Linked DNA regions of Homo sapiens: region 2 is linked to region 1. A link means that fine-mapping ties the variant in region 1 to the expression of a gene that starts in the linked region. Tissue or cell type: whole blood. Region 1 holds a variant in brackets; the other region holds the start of a gene. All regions are shown on one strand. Distances are from middle to middle.

The links. PIP is the estimated chance that this variant, and not a neighbour inherited with it, causes the effect.
Region 2: it holds the start of PIK3CA, and the variant in region 1 is fine-mapped to the expression of PIK3CA in whole blood (INTERVAL, PIP 0.95).

What each region holds. Positions count from the first base shown.
Region 1 is chr3:179,035,838-179,043,712 of GRCh38, forward strand. All of the region lies in intron 2 of ZMAT3 (zinc finger matrin-type 3), which reads right to left. Among named protein-coding and RNA genes, the nearest start is that of ZMAT3, 32 kb to the right of the region's middle. The variant G/A (reference allele first, on the strand shown) is at 2,830.
Region 2 is chr3:179,144,399-179,152,273 of GRCh38, forward strand. It overlaps PIK3CA (phosphatidylinositol-4,5-bisphosphate 3-kinase catalytic subunit alpha), which reads left to right and starts at 3,959. Exons shown (of 21, transcript NM_006218.4): 1 at 3,959-4,205. It overlaps PIK3CA-DT (PIK3CA divergent transcript), which reads right to left and starts at 3,575. Exons shown (of 3, transcript NR_125401.1): 1 at 3,518-3,575. RefSeq lists enhancers at 2,674-2,783, 3,394-3,513, 4,323-4,822, 5,384-5,433 and silencers at 4,004-4,473, 4,534-4,583.

The DNA of each region.
Region 1 (7,875 bases):
CTTCCCTGAAAAGGGGGCAACTGACTCATCTTTTTAAATGAGCAAATGTTTACAGGGGAGGTAAGCAATACGGAAAAAGAAAACTGTGCACCAAGAAAATAGCATGAGCAAAAGCCCAGCCTTCTGTGTTGAGGGGCTACAAGGAGAGATAACGGTCTTCTAGATCCTTTGGAGGAGAGGCAAAAATTGAAATACACAGGGGGCTCATTCTTAATGCCTTTGCCCATGATAAAGAACTTGGACTTCAGAGGCAGCAGGGAGCCTCTGAGGAACTTTAAGCAAAGCAGTGCATGACTTGATTGTATTTGATAAAGATGAGCATCAGGGTAGCAGACCAAAGCTGGAAGCTGGGAAGATACACAGAGGAGAGTCAAGGACAAAATCCTAGACACTACAACATAGAGTCTAGTAGAGAATGAAGATCCAGAAAATGAGATTGACAAGGTCTAGCCAAAAAGTAAGATAAAAATCAGATAGTATGTTATCATAGAAGCCCACAACCAAACTGGAGTTCAAGAGTGTGGTCAGGATGAAGACAGACTCTCAGGAATGATCTGAATGTGGATGGTATTTAAAGCTATGGAGCCAAAAACTATCACCTAGACAGAGTGGAGACAGATAACAGCTTGCAAAATGGGCCTCAAGCAAGATAATGGCTAGATAAAGGAGAAAGACGCAGGAACTATGAAGAAGGTAAGAACAAGTAATAGCATATTGGATAAGAGGGTAGAAGGGAGGTGAACCGCAGGGTAGATGGAAATATTTATGAAAAATTTTTAAAGGTGTGGGGAGGAAAAAAGGCTTTGGGGAAGAAGATAGAGTCAACAATCTCAATCTCAATATGAGATTGAGACAACCGAAAGACATCTTAATGAATCCAAGAGACAGTGCAATGTGTGGCTTAGTGACAGCAACTGGAGACAGACAAATTCCTAGGCAGACAGGGATGGGTCCCTGTGAAACCCAACCTCATGCCAAAGACAGTTTAAAGACTGAAAACTGAGCTGCCAGTTGCAGGTGGAGTCCACAACGAGAGTGAGAACTTCCTCGATGCCTTTTAGGCAATCAAATGGTGCTTTTTCCAAGCCGACCCGTGAACCAATCAGCACGCACTCCCCCATTCTGAGCCCATAAAAATCCCAGACTCAACCCCACAGATGGCAAACCTCTTTTGGGTCCCCTCTCACACACAGGGCTAATCACTCTTGGGCCCCCTCTCTGCTGAGAGCTTTCCTTCTATTGCTCAATGAAATTCTTCTCCACCCTATTCACTCTCCAGTGTCCATGTACCTTATTCCTCTTATTCCTCTTGGTCGCAGGAGAAGAACCCAGAATAGGCCAACCTGTAACACACACCCATTCACTGAGCTGCGGGTGGTGGGACCGACTGAGCTGTAACATGCCCCTGTTCGCCAAGCTGCAGGTGGCAGGAACAATACAAAGCTGCAACATTTCTTGGGAGGTCAAATCTTGGGACTCCCCGGATGAGAGCTGTAACACCCCTTGGGACTCTGCCATTACTGACATCTCTGAGTTTTCGGGCACCACCCACATTCCCCTCATCTAGACAACGACACCCAATGCAGAAGCTGCTGGCAACACACCCAGTGGAGCCATGGGCTGAGTGCAGATCCCTCAGCGGGCGCAGGATCCAGGCCAAGGCACAAGCCGAGCACAGCCTGCCAGGCTGAGTGGGCGGAGTGAGCTCGGTGGAATGAGGCCCCAGGCAGAGGACACAGCACCCACAGAGATTTCCGGCTGGTGAAGCAGCACCAAAGGAATCCTTACACTGCAACCCTCCCTCCTGCTCACTGAGCAACGGGGAAAAAAAGCCAGTGTGCCATTTCCTCCCGCTTGCTGAACTACAAAAGCTGCAACATTAGCACTAAGGAAGTCAAGGCTAAGAAGGTTTAGAAGTCTTCTAAAAACAGGTGAGAATTTGAATCTACAACTCTGGCGGAAGATAACAGGGTTAAATAGTTACTGACTACCCTCTATGTTCTGGCAACCATTCTAAGAAAAGGAGATAAAACAGTGAACAAAGGCAAAGTCTCTGCCCTCAAGAAGCTTTTCTAGGGGACATAAACAGAATATATACATGTACATATATATATGTACACACACACAACCAAAGAAAAAAGAGTTACTGACAACTGCTCTGCAAAAAATAAAACAGGATGATATAATAGATAATGGACAGGGAGAGAGTGGGGTGGGCCGACAAGGCTTTTCTGGGGAGATACATGTCAGCTAAAAGCTGAAGCATGAGATGGCTCCAGCCATGCAATGTAGAGAAAGGGGGAAGAGCTGGGCATCAAGAGACCCACTTGCTGTGTTAAGTCTGAGATCCCTTTCAGATGTCCAAAGAGAGACCAACCTGGAGTTTACGAACGAGGTCAGGTTAGAGATAGAATCTGAGGAGTTATCAGTATGTAGGTGGAATTTAAAACCATGGAACTAGGGCCAGGCACAGTGGCTCATGCCTATAATCCCAGCACTTTGGGAGGCTGAGGCAGAAGGATCACTTGAGTCTAAGACTTTGAGACCAAACTGGGCAAAATGACAAAACCCCATCTCTAAAAAAAGAAAAATGAGGCAGGCATGGTGGTGCAAACCTATGGTCCCAGCTGCTGGGAGCACTGAGATGGAAGGATCAGTTAAACCCAGAAGGTTGAGGTTGCAGTGAGCCATGACTGCAATGCTACACTCCAGCTGGGTGACAGAGCGAGACCCTGTCTCAAAAAATAAAATAAAATACAAGATGGCCAAATAGGAACAGCTCTGGTCTGCAGCTCCCAGCGTGATCAATGCAGCAGACGGGTGATATCC[G/A]CATTTTGAACTGAGGTACCTGGTTCACCTCACTGGGACTGGTTGTACAGTGGGTGCAGCCCACAGAGGACGAACTGAAGCAGGGTGGGGTGTTACCTCAACCGGGAAGCCAAGAGGTCAGGGGATTTCCCTTTCCTAGCCAAGAGAAGCCGTGACGGACTGCACCTGGAAAAACAGGACACTTCTGCCCAAATACTGCGCTTTTCCCAAGGTCTTAGCAACCGGAAAACAAGGAGATACTCTCCCGTGCCTGGCTTGGCAGGTCCCACGTCCACAGAGCCTCACTCACTGCTAGCGCAGCAGTCTGAGATCAAACTGCAAGGCAGCAGCCTGGCTGGGGGAGGGGCCTCAGCCATTGCTGAGGCTTGAGTAGGTAAACAAAGTGGCTGGGAAGCTCGAACTGGGCAGAGCCCACCACAGCTCAACAAGGCCTACTGCCTCCAGACTCCACCTCAGTGGGCAGGGCTTAGCTGAACAAAAGGCAGCAGACAACTTCTGCAAAGTTCAATGTCCCTTTCTGACAGCTCTGAAGAGAGCAGTGGTTCTCCCAACATGGTGTTTGAGCTCTGAGAATGGACAGACTGCCTCTTCAAGTGGCTCCTTGACCTCCATGTAGCCTAACTGGGAGACACGTCCCAGTAAGGGCCAACAGTCACCTCATATAGATGGGTGCCCCTCTGGGATGCAGATTCCGGAGGAAGGATCAGGCAGCAATATTTGCTGTTCTGCAATATTTGCTGTTCTGCAGCCTCCGCTGGTGATACCCAGGCAAACCGGGTCTGGAGTGGACCTCCAGCAAACTCCAACAGACCTGCAGCTGAGGGACCTATTAGAAGGAAAACTAACAAACAGAAAGGAATAGCATCAACATCAACAAAAAGAACGTCTACACCAAAACCCCATCTGTAGGTCACCAACATCAAAGACCAAAGGTAGATAAAACCAAAAAGATGGGGAGAAACCAGAGCAGAAAAGCTGAAAATTCTAAAAATCAGAGTGCCTCCTCTCCAAAGGATCATAGTTCCTCACCAGCAATGGAACAAAGCTGGACAAAGAATGACTCTGACGAGGTGACAGAAGTAGACTTCAGAAGGTCAGTAATAACAAACTTCTCCAAGCTAAAGGAGCATGTTCGAACCCATCGCAAGGAAGCTAAAAACCTTGAAAAAAGGTTAGACGAATGGCTAACTAGAATAAACACTGTAGAGAAGACCTTAAATGACTGATGGAGCTGAAAACCATGGCATGGGAACTTCGTGACACATGCACAAGCTTCAATAGCCAATTCGATCTAGTGGAAGAAAGGGTATCAGTGATTGAAGATCAAATTAATTAATGAAATAAAGCAAGAAGACATGGTTAGAAAAAAAGAGTAAAAAGAAATGAACAAAGCCTCCAAGAAATATGGGACTATGTGAAAAGACCAAATCTACGTTTGATTGGTGTACCTGAAAGTGATAGGGAGAATGGAACCAAGTTGGAAAACACTCTTCAGGATATTATCCAGGAGAACTTCCCCAACCTAGCAAGGCAGGCCAACATTCAAATTCAGGAAATACAGGGAATGCCACAAAGATACTCCTTGGGAAGAGCAACCCCAAGACATGTAATTGTCACATTCACCACGGTTGAAATGAAGGAAAAAATGTTAAGGGCAGCCAGAGAGAAAGGTCGAGTTACCCACAAAGGGAAACCCATCAGACTAACAGCGGATCTCTCGGCAGAAACCCTACAAGCCAGAAAAGAGTGGGGGCCGATATTCAACTTCCTTAAAGAAAAGAATTTTCAACCCAGAATTTCATATCCAGCCAAACTAAGCTTCATAAGTGAAGGAGAAATGAAATCCTTTACAGACAAGCAAATGCTGAGAGATTTTGTCACCACCAGGCCTGCCTTACAAGAGTTCCTGAAGGAAGCACTAAACATAGAAACAACCGGTAACAACCACTGCAAAAACTGCCAAATTATAAAGACCATCGATGCTATGAAAAAACTGCATCAATTAATGGGCAAAACAACCAGCAAACATCATGACAGGATCAAATTCACACATAACAATACTAACCTTAAATGTAAATGAGCTAAATGCCCCAATTAAAAGACACAGACTGGCAAATTGGATAAAGAGTCACAACCCATCAGTGTGCTGTATTCAGGAGACCCATCTCATGTGCAAAGACACACAGAGGCTCAAAATAAAGGGATGGAGGAAGATCTACCAAGCAAATGGAAAGCAAAAAAAAAAAAAAAGCAGGGGTAACAATCCTACTCTCCGATAAAACAGACTTTAAATCAACAAAGATCAAAAGAGACAAAGAAGGGCATTACATAATGGTAAAGGGATCAATTCAATGAGAAGAGCTAACTATCCTAAATATATATGCACCCAATACAGGAGCACCCAGATTCATAAAGCAAGTCCTCAGAGACCCACAAAGAGACTTAGACTCCCACACAATAATAATAGGAGACTTTAACATCCCACTGTCAATATTAGACAGATTAATGAGACACAAGGTTAACAAGCATATACAGGACTTGAACTCAGCTCTGCACCAAGCAGACCTAATAGGTATCTACAGAACTCTCCACCCCAAATCAACATAATATACATTCTTCTCAGCACCACATCACACTTATTCTAAAATTGACCACATAATTGGAAGTAAAGTATTCCTCAGCAAATGTAAAAGAACAGAAATCACAACAAACTGCATCTCAGACCACAGTGCAATCAAATTAGAACTCAGGATTAAGAAACTCACTCAAAACTGCACAACTACATGGAAACTGAACAACTTGCTCCTGAATGACTACTGGGTAAATAACGAAATGAAGGCAGAAATAAAGATGTTCTTTGAAACAAATGAGAACAAAAACTCAACGTACCAGAGTCTCTGGGACACATTTAAAGCAGTGTGGTAGAGGGAAATTTATAGCACTAAATGCCCACAAGAGAAAGCAGGAAAGATCTAAAATTGACACCCTAACATTACAATTAAAAGAACTAGAGAAGTAAGAGCAAACAAATTCAAAGGCTAGCAGAAGGCAAGAAATAACTAAGATCAGAGCAGAACTGAAAGAGACAGACACACAAAAATCCCTTCAAAAAATCACTGAATCCAGGAGCTGTTTTTTTTAAAAGATCAACAAAATTGAGAGACCACTAGCAAGACTAATAAAGAAGAAAAGAGAGAAGAATCAAATAGATGCAATAAAAAAATGATAAAGGGGATGTCACCACCGATCCCACAGAAATACAAACTACCATCAGTGAATACTATAAACACCTCTACGCAAACGAACTAGAAAATCTAGAAGAAATGGATAAACTCCTGGGCACATACACCCTCCCAAGACTAATCCAGGAAGAAGTTGAATCTCTGAATAGACCAGTAACAGGCTCTGAAATTGAGGCAATAATTAATAGCCTACCAATCAAAAAAAGTCCAGGGCCAGACAGATTCACAGCCGAATTCTACCAGAGGTACAAAGAGGAGCTGGTACCATTCCTTCTGAAACTATTCCAATCAATAAAAAGAGGGAACTCATTTTATGAGGCCAACATCATCCCGACACCAAAGCCTGGAAGAGATACAACAAAAACCAGAGAACTTTAGACCAATATCCCTGATAAACATGGATGCGAAAATCCTCAATAAAATACTGGCAAACCGAATCCAGCAGCGTATCAAAAAGCTTATCCACCATGATCAGGTCAGCTTCATCCCTGGGATGCAAGGCTGGTTCAACATACACAAATCAAAAAACATAATCCATCACATAAACAGAACCAATGACAAAAACCACATGATTATCTCAATAGAGGCAGAAAAGGCCTTTGACAAAACTCAACAGCCTTCATGCCAAAAACTCTCAATAAATTAGGTATTGATGGAACGTATCTCAAAATAATAAGAGCTATTTATGACAAACCCACAGCCAATATCACACTGAATGGGCAAAAACTGGAAGCATTCTCTTTGAAAACTGGCACAAGACAAGGATGCCCTCTCTCACCACTCCTATTCAACATAGTGTTGGAAGTTCTGGCCAGGGCAATCAGGCAAGAGAAAGAAATAAAGGGTATTCAATTAGGAGAAGAGGAAGTCAAATTGTCCCTGCTTGCAGATGACATGATTGTATATTTAGAAAACCCCATTGTCTCAGCCCAAAATCTCCTTAAGCTGATAAGCAACATCAGCAAAGTCTCAGATACAAAATCAATGTGCAAAAATCACAAGCACTCCTATACACCAATAACAGACAAACAGAGAGCCAAATCATCAGTGAACTCCCATTCACAATTGCTACGAAAACAATAAAATACCTAGGAATCCAACTTACAAGGGATGTGAAGGACCTCTTCAAAGAGAGCTACAAACCACTGCTTAAGGAAATAAAAGAGGACACAAACAAATGGAAGAACATTCCATGCTCATGAACAGGAAGAATCAATATCGTGAAAATAGCCATACTGCCCAAGGTAATTTATAGATTAAATGCCATCCCCATCAAGCTACCAATGACTTTCTTCACAGAATTGGAAAAAACTACTTTAAAGTTCATATGGAACCAAAAAAAGAGCCCGCATTGCCAAGACAATCCTAAGCCAAAAGAACAAAGCTGGAGGCATCATGCTACCTGACTTCAAACTATACTACAAGCCTACAGTAACCAAAACAGCATGGTACTGGTACCAAAACAGACATATAGACCAATGGAAAAGAACAGGCCTCAGAAATAACACCACACATCTACAACCATCTGATCTTTGACAAACCTGACAAAAACAAGAAATGGGGAAAGGATTCCCTATTTAATAAATGGTGCTGGGAAAACTGGCTAGCCATATGTAGAAAGCTGAAACTGGATCCCTTCCTTACTCCTTATACAAAAATTAATTCAAGATGGATTAAAGACTTAAATGTTAGACCTAAAACCATAAAAATCCTAGAAGAAAACCTAGGCAATACCATTCAGCACATAGGCATGGGCACAGACTTCACAACTAAAACACCAAAAGCAATGGCAACAAAAGCCAAA
Region 2 (7,875 bases), 110 kb after region 1:
CTACACGGTTGCAAGGCTTCTTTCTACATTTTACTTGAAGTGGTGTAATAGTAATACTAAGTAGACCGCAAAACTTTAGGTATGTATATTATAATCCATAGAATTACCAAAAAATTACCAAGAAATATATTAAAACTACAATATAGAAATTAAAATGGAATATTAAAAATTTTTCAAATAATCCACAAGAAAGCAGGAAAGTAGAAACATAAAAACAAAAGTATAGAGGAAAAACAGAAAACAAATAATAAAATGGCAAGCCTAAATCCATATAATTACATTAAATGTAAATTAAACACAGCAATTAAAACACAGAAATTGTCAGATTGGAATTTTTAAAAAGAGATCTAATACGTGTTGTCTACGAGTAACTCACTTTAAATATAAAAATAGATATAAAAAAGATGGGAAAAAATACCATGGAAAAATTAATCAAAAAAAGCTGGACTGGCTGTATTAATATCAGACAAAGTAGATTTCAGAACAAAGATATTACTAGGAATAAAGAGAGATAGTACAGATTGATTAAAAAGAGTCAATGTATCAAAACACAAGAGTTCTAAATGTGTATACATCTAACAACAAAGCTTCAAAACACACAAAGTAAAAATACACAGAAGTGAAATGAGAAATAAAGAAATCCACAATTATATTTTGAAACATCAATGCTAACAAAATCATCAACTTGGTAAGAAACTACATTCTGCCCAACAATAGCAAACAAAATATTCTTTCATAAGTGCACATGGGACATTCACCAAGATATTCTGGGGCAACACAAATCTTAACTTGAAAAGAACTGAAATCTTAAAAGTACGTGTGTGTATGTGTGTGTGGGTGTATGGTTTTTTTTTTTTTAAGATGGAGTCTCGGTCAGGCGTGGTGGCTCACACCTGTAATCTCAGCACTTTGGGAGGCCAAGGCGGGCGGATCATGAGGTCAGGAGTTCAAGACCAGCCTGACCAATATGGTGAAACCCCGTCTCTACTAAAAATACAAAAATTAGCCGGGCGTGGTGGCACGTGCCTGTAGTCCCAGCTACTCGGAAGGCTGAGGCAGGAGAATCACTTGAACCTGGGAGGCAGAGGTTGCAGTGAGCCAAGATCGCGCCACTGCACTCCAGCCTGGGTGACAGAGCGAGACTCCATCTCAAAAAAAAAAAAAAAAAAAAAAAAACAGTGCTACATGGTAACTCATATCGTTATCTCTTGGTGTGTTTTTATTGTTTGACTTGGCAATTTTATACATCTAAAGTATACTGCTACATAATCAACTTGACTCTTATTTACAAAGGACTTCAAAGCTTAGTAGTGACTTAAGCGCTATTAGAGAATGTTTCGGTGCATATTTGAGTATCAGTTATGATTTTCAATGGAAATAAACCCAAAAGGCAAGTAACTGTCATTATAATTCTGATTATTAGAATAGAACAATAGCTACATACTGGACATTTCACCTCCCGTCTTTAGAACCCTTAGGATGCAATTATTTAATTTTGAAGTATACCATTTTTTGTTTCATTTACAGCCTGAGAATCATTATTTTTTTAAAACCTTCTTTCAGCTCCTAATCCTTGAGTGATGAGTTTGGTCATATAGATGCTTATATCATACAGATATTTTTATATCATATAGATATTTTAAACACTGAATAACATTGCAAAAACCTTTGAAAGCAAGATGACACCTAAGACCAATGGCTTACATATAAGGCAAACATTATCAACCGTGAATTGAATAGTAAATGCTACTCCTGTACCAATGAATGGTGTCATGCATTCAAGTACCAGGTATGGCTTTTTCTGCTATGACACACAACTTCTTAGGGGCAGATAATCACATAACAAAAAACATATTATGTAATTAGCATTTTCTTATTAAAAAATAAATTTTAGGCTGGGCATGTCGGCTGAAGTCTGTAATCCCAACACTTTGGGAGGCCGAGGTAGATGAATCTCTTGAGCCCAGGAGTTGGAGACCAGTCTGGGCAACGAAGCAAGACCCTGTCTTTACAAAAAATAAAACATTTTTAAAAATCACAAATAGGCCAGGTGCGGTGGCTTACGCCTGTAATCCTAGCACTCTGGGAAGTCGAGGGGGGTGGATCACCTGAAGTCAGAAGTTTGAGACCAGCCTGACCAACATGGTGAAACCCCGTCTCTACTAAGAAATACAAAAATTAGCTGGCATGTTGGCTGGTGCCTGTAATCCCAGCTACTCGGGAGGCTGAGGCAGAAGAATCGCTTGAACCCGGGAGGCAGAGGCTGCAGTGAGCCGAGACTGCACCGCTGAACTCCAGCCTGGGCTACAGAGTGAGACTCTGGCTCAAAAAAATAATAATAATAAATAAATAATAAATTTTATAAGGAAAAATATCCCTAGTATATTTTTCCCCACCAAGGTCTACCTATTAATATCTCATATAACTCTGTGCTTGAAACACAATTTGGGATATATTGCCTTAAAATTTACTTTGACTAGCAATTCAGTGTTCCTTTTTTAAAAAAATCTGTACTCTGGAGTAACAGTGTTCTAAAACTGTTGAAGAACATTGGTTCGAGAAAAACATTTAGAAACACAAACCCCTGGAATGTGAGATGAAAATCCGAGCTAAAGGGAGAAAAAGGACGAAAGAAAGAAAACACAGAAAAGAAAGAAATACAGTCAAGTGAAACTACGACCACAAAGAGGAACAGATCCATCTCATTTACCATTGGGGTATGGACGGACGTGCGGTGTTCGAGAAGACTGTTATTGGTCAGAGTTTTGCTCTAGAGGACAAGTAGGACTGTAACATCTCTAGGATGGGTCACTTCCCAAGCCCTCTATTACTTAAAAATTCAAGGAGGAACCGATGCTGGAGTACTTGTATCTCAGACTTCTAATCACTGCTCCTACGCTTTTCCAATATTACAACAAAAGACCAGTAGGGGGAGAAAAACGCACAGTACCGAACCCTTATCAGTAGTAATCTCAAAAGTCAACAGATTGATTTACTCTCAAGCAAACAGACTTCTAAGGTACGCAGCACCAAGACACTACCTTGAATCAAATCTATAGCCTATATGACATTTCTGAAGTCTCTGTTGGCATTACGCGAAAAATCCCCCACGTCTTCTGAATAGTTAGAATTGAATCCTACAAGCTGCTTCGAATCAGAATTCGATTTAAAAAAAAAAATGAGGGCATAGCAAAAGGTCTCCACGAAGTGAGTCAAAGGACTGCAGAGGGCTGTGACAGTGCATTCCGCCTTCGGGATGGTATACAACTTAAACCATGTCGGCAGAAGAACGCACAGCAACGCTTTGTAAAAAGCATTCTTTCTATTATAGAATCCATAACCACGCTGGTTAGCCACTGACAGCGGCGGTTAGCCACCGCACCTCCTCTCACCCCCGAACTAATCTCGTTTCCTCTATGGGTGTAAAAGTGAAATAACCCACTTGCTCCCAATATTCCTTTCTATATCTCTACCCCAGCTCGCCTGCTGCTCGTAGAAACAAATATACTACACGTACGCTGTCCTAGGATGACACAACACCCTCACTACTGCAGAAGACGGATCATTAAACAAACGTCAGAAGAGCAGCCCCAACTGTACATAAACTTCGGGCGGAAAAGCAAGACGCAGGCGCAGTAGCACATATTGTTACCCTATTTGCCCACTCCCTGCTCCTCCTCGCCTCAATTTCGCTTCCGCTTCTTTGCGCATCTGCTTCCGGGGGATTGTAGGCTCTGCCCCTCCTCAGCTCTTACCCTCTTCTGCCGGAGGAGGGGGGGGGCCGAGGGGGTGGGGAAGAGTTCGTTGTTTGTTTACACGATGTGAGCGGAAAAAGAGACCAATAAAGTTTATTCTGGAAACAAAAGGAAAAAAAAACAGGGGCGACGGAGAAAGGAGTCGGGGGCGGGGGCGTGTGGCGGGGGCTAGCGAGGAGAGGGAGCGAGAAGTAGAAAGCGGCAGTTCCGGTGCCGCCGCTGCGGCCGCTGAGGTGTCGGGCTGCTGCTGCCGCGGCCGCTGGGACTGGGGCTGGGGCCGCCGGCGAGGCAGGGCTCGGGCCCGGCCGGGCAGCTCCGGAGCGGCGGGGGAGAGGGGCCGGGAGGCGGGGGCCGTGCCGCCCGCTCTCCTCTCCCTCGGCGCCGCCGCCGCCGCCCGCGGGGCTGGGACCCGATGCGGTTAGAGCCGCGGAGCCTGGAAGAGCCCCGAGCGTGAGTAGAGCGCGGACTGGCCGGTAGCGGGTGCGGTGGGAATGGGGACCGGGTGGGTGCCGGAGACTCCCGGGCGCGCCCGCCGTGTTGGGCGGAGGCTACGGGCTGGTCGTCTCCCAGCGTCGGCCCGCGGCGGAGTTCGCCTGCGATCGCCGCACCCTCTCCCTCGCCTGCCTCTGGCCTCTCCTAGCTGCAGAGGCGAGGGCTCGCCGCTCCCTCTCCTTTCTCTCTGGCTGCCGCCTCGCTCTTCCTTTGCTTCTACTCCCAGTTTTGGGGACGGGGCGGCTGGAGGTTGAGGAAGTGCGCCCAGGGCCGCCGCCCCGGCCGCGGTGGCTCTGTCTCCCGCGCCCTGCACGCCCACCCAGCCCGCGGGTGGAGGGGCTGCCGCGAGGACTGCGGCTCAAGGGACGCGGGCGCGAAACCGCGAGCTTTTCTTGAGGGGCTGTCACGCCCGAGGACTCCGGCCCCGCCAGCCTGGCGGCCCTGCGTTTGCCTCTTACTGGGTTTAAATCGCCCGGCAGGGGTATGGAAGGAACACCGCTCCCCTCACCCCCGCCAGCTCCCCTCCCACCCTTCCTTTCGAGGTTGTTTTTTCCTTTTAGCTGAGACAAACGCTTAGATCTTTCATTCATAGACCTGAGACACTGACTCATGTGACTTGTCTCTTTACTAAGTGTATTATGTGATGCCTGTTCCATGGCTCTTAAGTGGCTCGGAAAGGTAGGGTAGGGCCCGGGATTGGGCTATGTAAACACCAGACGTTCAGCCGGCGTGTTTTTGACCTCGGCTCGAGGGGTTTATTTTAGGATGCTAAAGGAATAGTGATGGTGGCCAACCGTGTTACCAGACTTGGGAATCGAAAGCTATTTTTTTATGTCAATAATTGAGACTGTTTACATGGTTAAATAAAGGGTAGGGTAAAGGGAGCGCAACAAGAGGGTCTTTCTAGAAAACAGTCTGCATATTCTTTAATGAATTAGAGTTGTGATTTCATCTTGGTGAAGCTTCCTCATTCCAGCACTGCGCCTTTGTGCACATGCAGGACCTGGGTTTTCGGAACGATGTTTTGAATCATAGTTTGTGTGGCCGGGGAGAACCCCTTAGAATACTTGGGTAGGTAAATTCCAGGTTATCTCAGGGGATTATTTCTACTGCGACTTTTGAACCACTGAGGGCAATATTGGTCATATGTTATCCTGCTTAGAAATTGAATTTTTCTGAGTATTTGCTTACATTGCACCGTACAAAATTTGTTTATGTGCTGGATTGCGTGTTTTAAGAAAACTTCTGGAAAATACTCAAAATACCGTGTTGCTAAGTTAGTTTGGATAAATCAAAACACTTTGCTTTCAAAGCAACTACAGTCTTAACAATTTAACGTGTCTTTGTATTCAGGTTTTAAGTTTTTGGTGTTTTTTTTTTTTCCTTTTAACTGAAGCACTGAGGTCCGATTGACAGCATAGATCTCCATCTAAACATCACATGTTCTGGAAATTTTTAATTATCAGATTAACTGTTCTGCAGTGTCATCAGCCAAAATTATCTGAAGAGGACTGTGTGTGTTTACGTGTGTGTGTGTGTGTGTGTGTGTGTGTGTGTTGGTATTTTGCTTAAGTTTTTTCATCTCACATTTTGGGACAAAATAAAACTTCATAGCTTTTTTCAAAAGTTTCTTGTGCTTTTTCAAACTAGAGTACTTTCCTATTAAAATCACAAAATAGTTTATTTAAAAATGATAGCATATCGTAATAATAGCATCATGGGGGAAATAACAAGAAAGTAAAGGAATATTAATATTGCATGATTGTGCGTATAAAGTTTTAAAGACATTCCTGTCAGTTTTAAATAATTAAAAATGAAACACCTGTAAATATAGAAGAGTGTTTTTATTTAAGGTTAAAAAAATTTAACTAAATTGGTTATAGCATTAAAGAGATGTTACTAAATACAAATATTGTACTTAAACTGAAAAATGGCTTCATGGAAGTGTAAATTGTCATGGGCCTTGATATATTTAAAAGGGAGACTAAAAGTGCAGTGGTTTTGCTTGCTCTGTGCGTGGAACAGCCTTTCTGGTGGCAGAGCTTCCTTCCTGTCAGGATAAGGTCCTCTCCATCCCAAATCAGTATCCCCTTAAAAAACCAAAGAAAAAACCCAAACTTATAAATAATGCACAACATAAAGTAGACTGTAATAACTTTTTCTCTAAACCAGTTTACTTTGTGTGCCGCTTCTTATAAGTACCCTTTACTGAATAAAGAGTTTTAAACAGTTACGATTACCATTTAAAGGGCACTTGCTCTGTTGATCTGTTTATTTGAAGAGAGGTAACTTAATCCCATTTGATCTCTTGAGCAGCTACAGTAGCATTAAAAGGATCAGTTCTCTATTTTGTTATTTTATATCTTGAATTCCAAGATAGGGGTGATTCTTTAAATGAAGTGTTTCTTAAGCATTATAAAATATTTCATCTCCAGTGAAAGTATTTACAATCTTAAAAATTATTCAGCTTTAGAAGTATATGTCTTAGAATATCATGGTTTACATTTTATTAGCACAGTTATCAAATAGTTTTTCTTAAGTATTACCTTGAGCTATATTAACAGTGCCGTAGACAGAGTGGTATTACTATCCCTAAGAAATGGTATTCTAATCTGAAGTCAGTTGGCAGGTGACAGACTCATTGACAAAACCAACATTTTCCGACTCCTTTCACTGTATCATGCTGCGTCTAATCTCCAGCCTGTTTTTTAATAGAACTGAAGAAATTAGGGCCCAAGGAGGCTTAATTACTGAAGATCTCCATTTCCTATATTTGCAGTAATATCTTTATTTAATTTCCTTTACATCATGAACAGTGGTTTTCAATCCTGGCTACACATTAGAATAATCTAGGGAGCTTTTTAAAAGTACTCTGGTCTCATCCCCAGAGATGCTCATTTAATTGGTCTGAGATGGATCCCAGTTATCTGTGTTTTGTTTTGTTTGTTTTGAAGTTCACCAGGAAATGCTAATAGAAAAGGATGTAAAGCCCTGGCTGTCAAGGACCTGTATATTTGGTCCTTGCTTCTTTCTCTAGGTTTATTTCTCCTCCCTACTCCTGCAGCTCCCTTGGTCTTTTCATACTCTCCTGTGCAAATACAGTTTGTACTTCCTGAGACATTTGAACACTCCATTCTTCTTTAACTGGTTGACTCCTACTCATCTTTCACATCACCTCCTTTGAAAAGTCTAGCTTGAGTTAGGTATCCCTGCTTCCTGTTCCCATAGCATCGTGTACTCCCACTGTCATAGCATTAACCTCACTGCATTGTAATTGCCTATTTCTTTGTCCATATCCTCTACCAGGCTGTAAATTCCATGAGGATAGGGACTCCTATCTTATATACTGTACAGTAGTATTCTTATTGCCAAGCACAGTAGCCTGTACATTACAGCACTTGACTAAACAAATAAATATAGTAGAGACAGACTTCTTTAAAACATGTAGTGATTCATAAGCACCAGTTTTTATTCTTGCCAATTTCATTTAATATTTTTGGTCACTAAAAATGTACAACCCTGAAATTGCCACACATACGAATTTCATTTGGGGACAGTTGAGATGTTATAAATTGTATAGAGTGGCATTCCACCTCAGACATATACACACACACGCAAAAAATGAAGA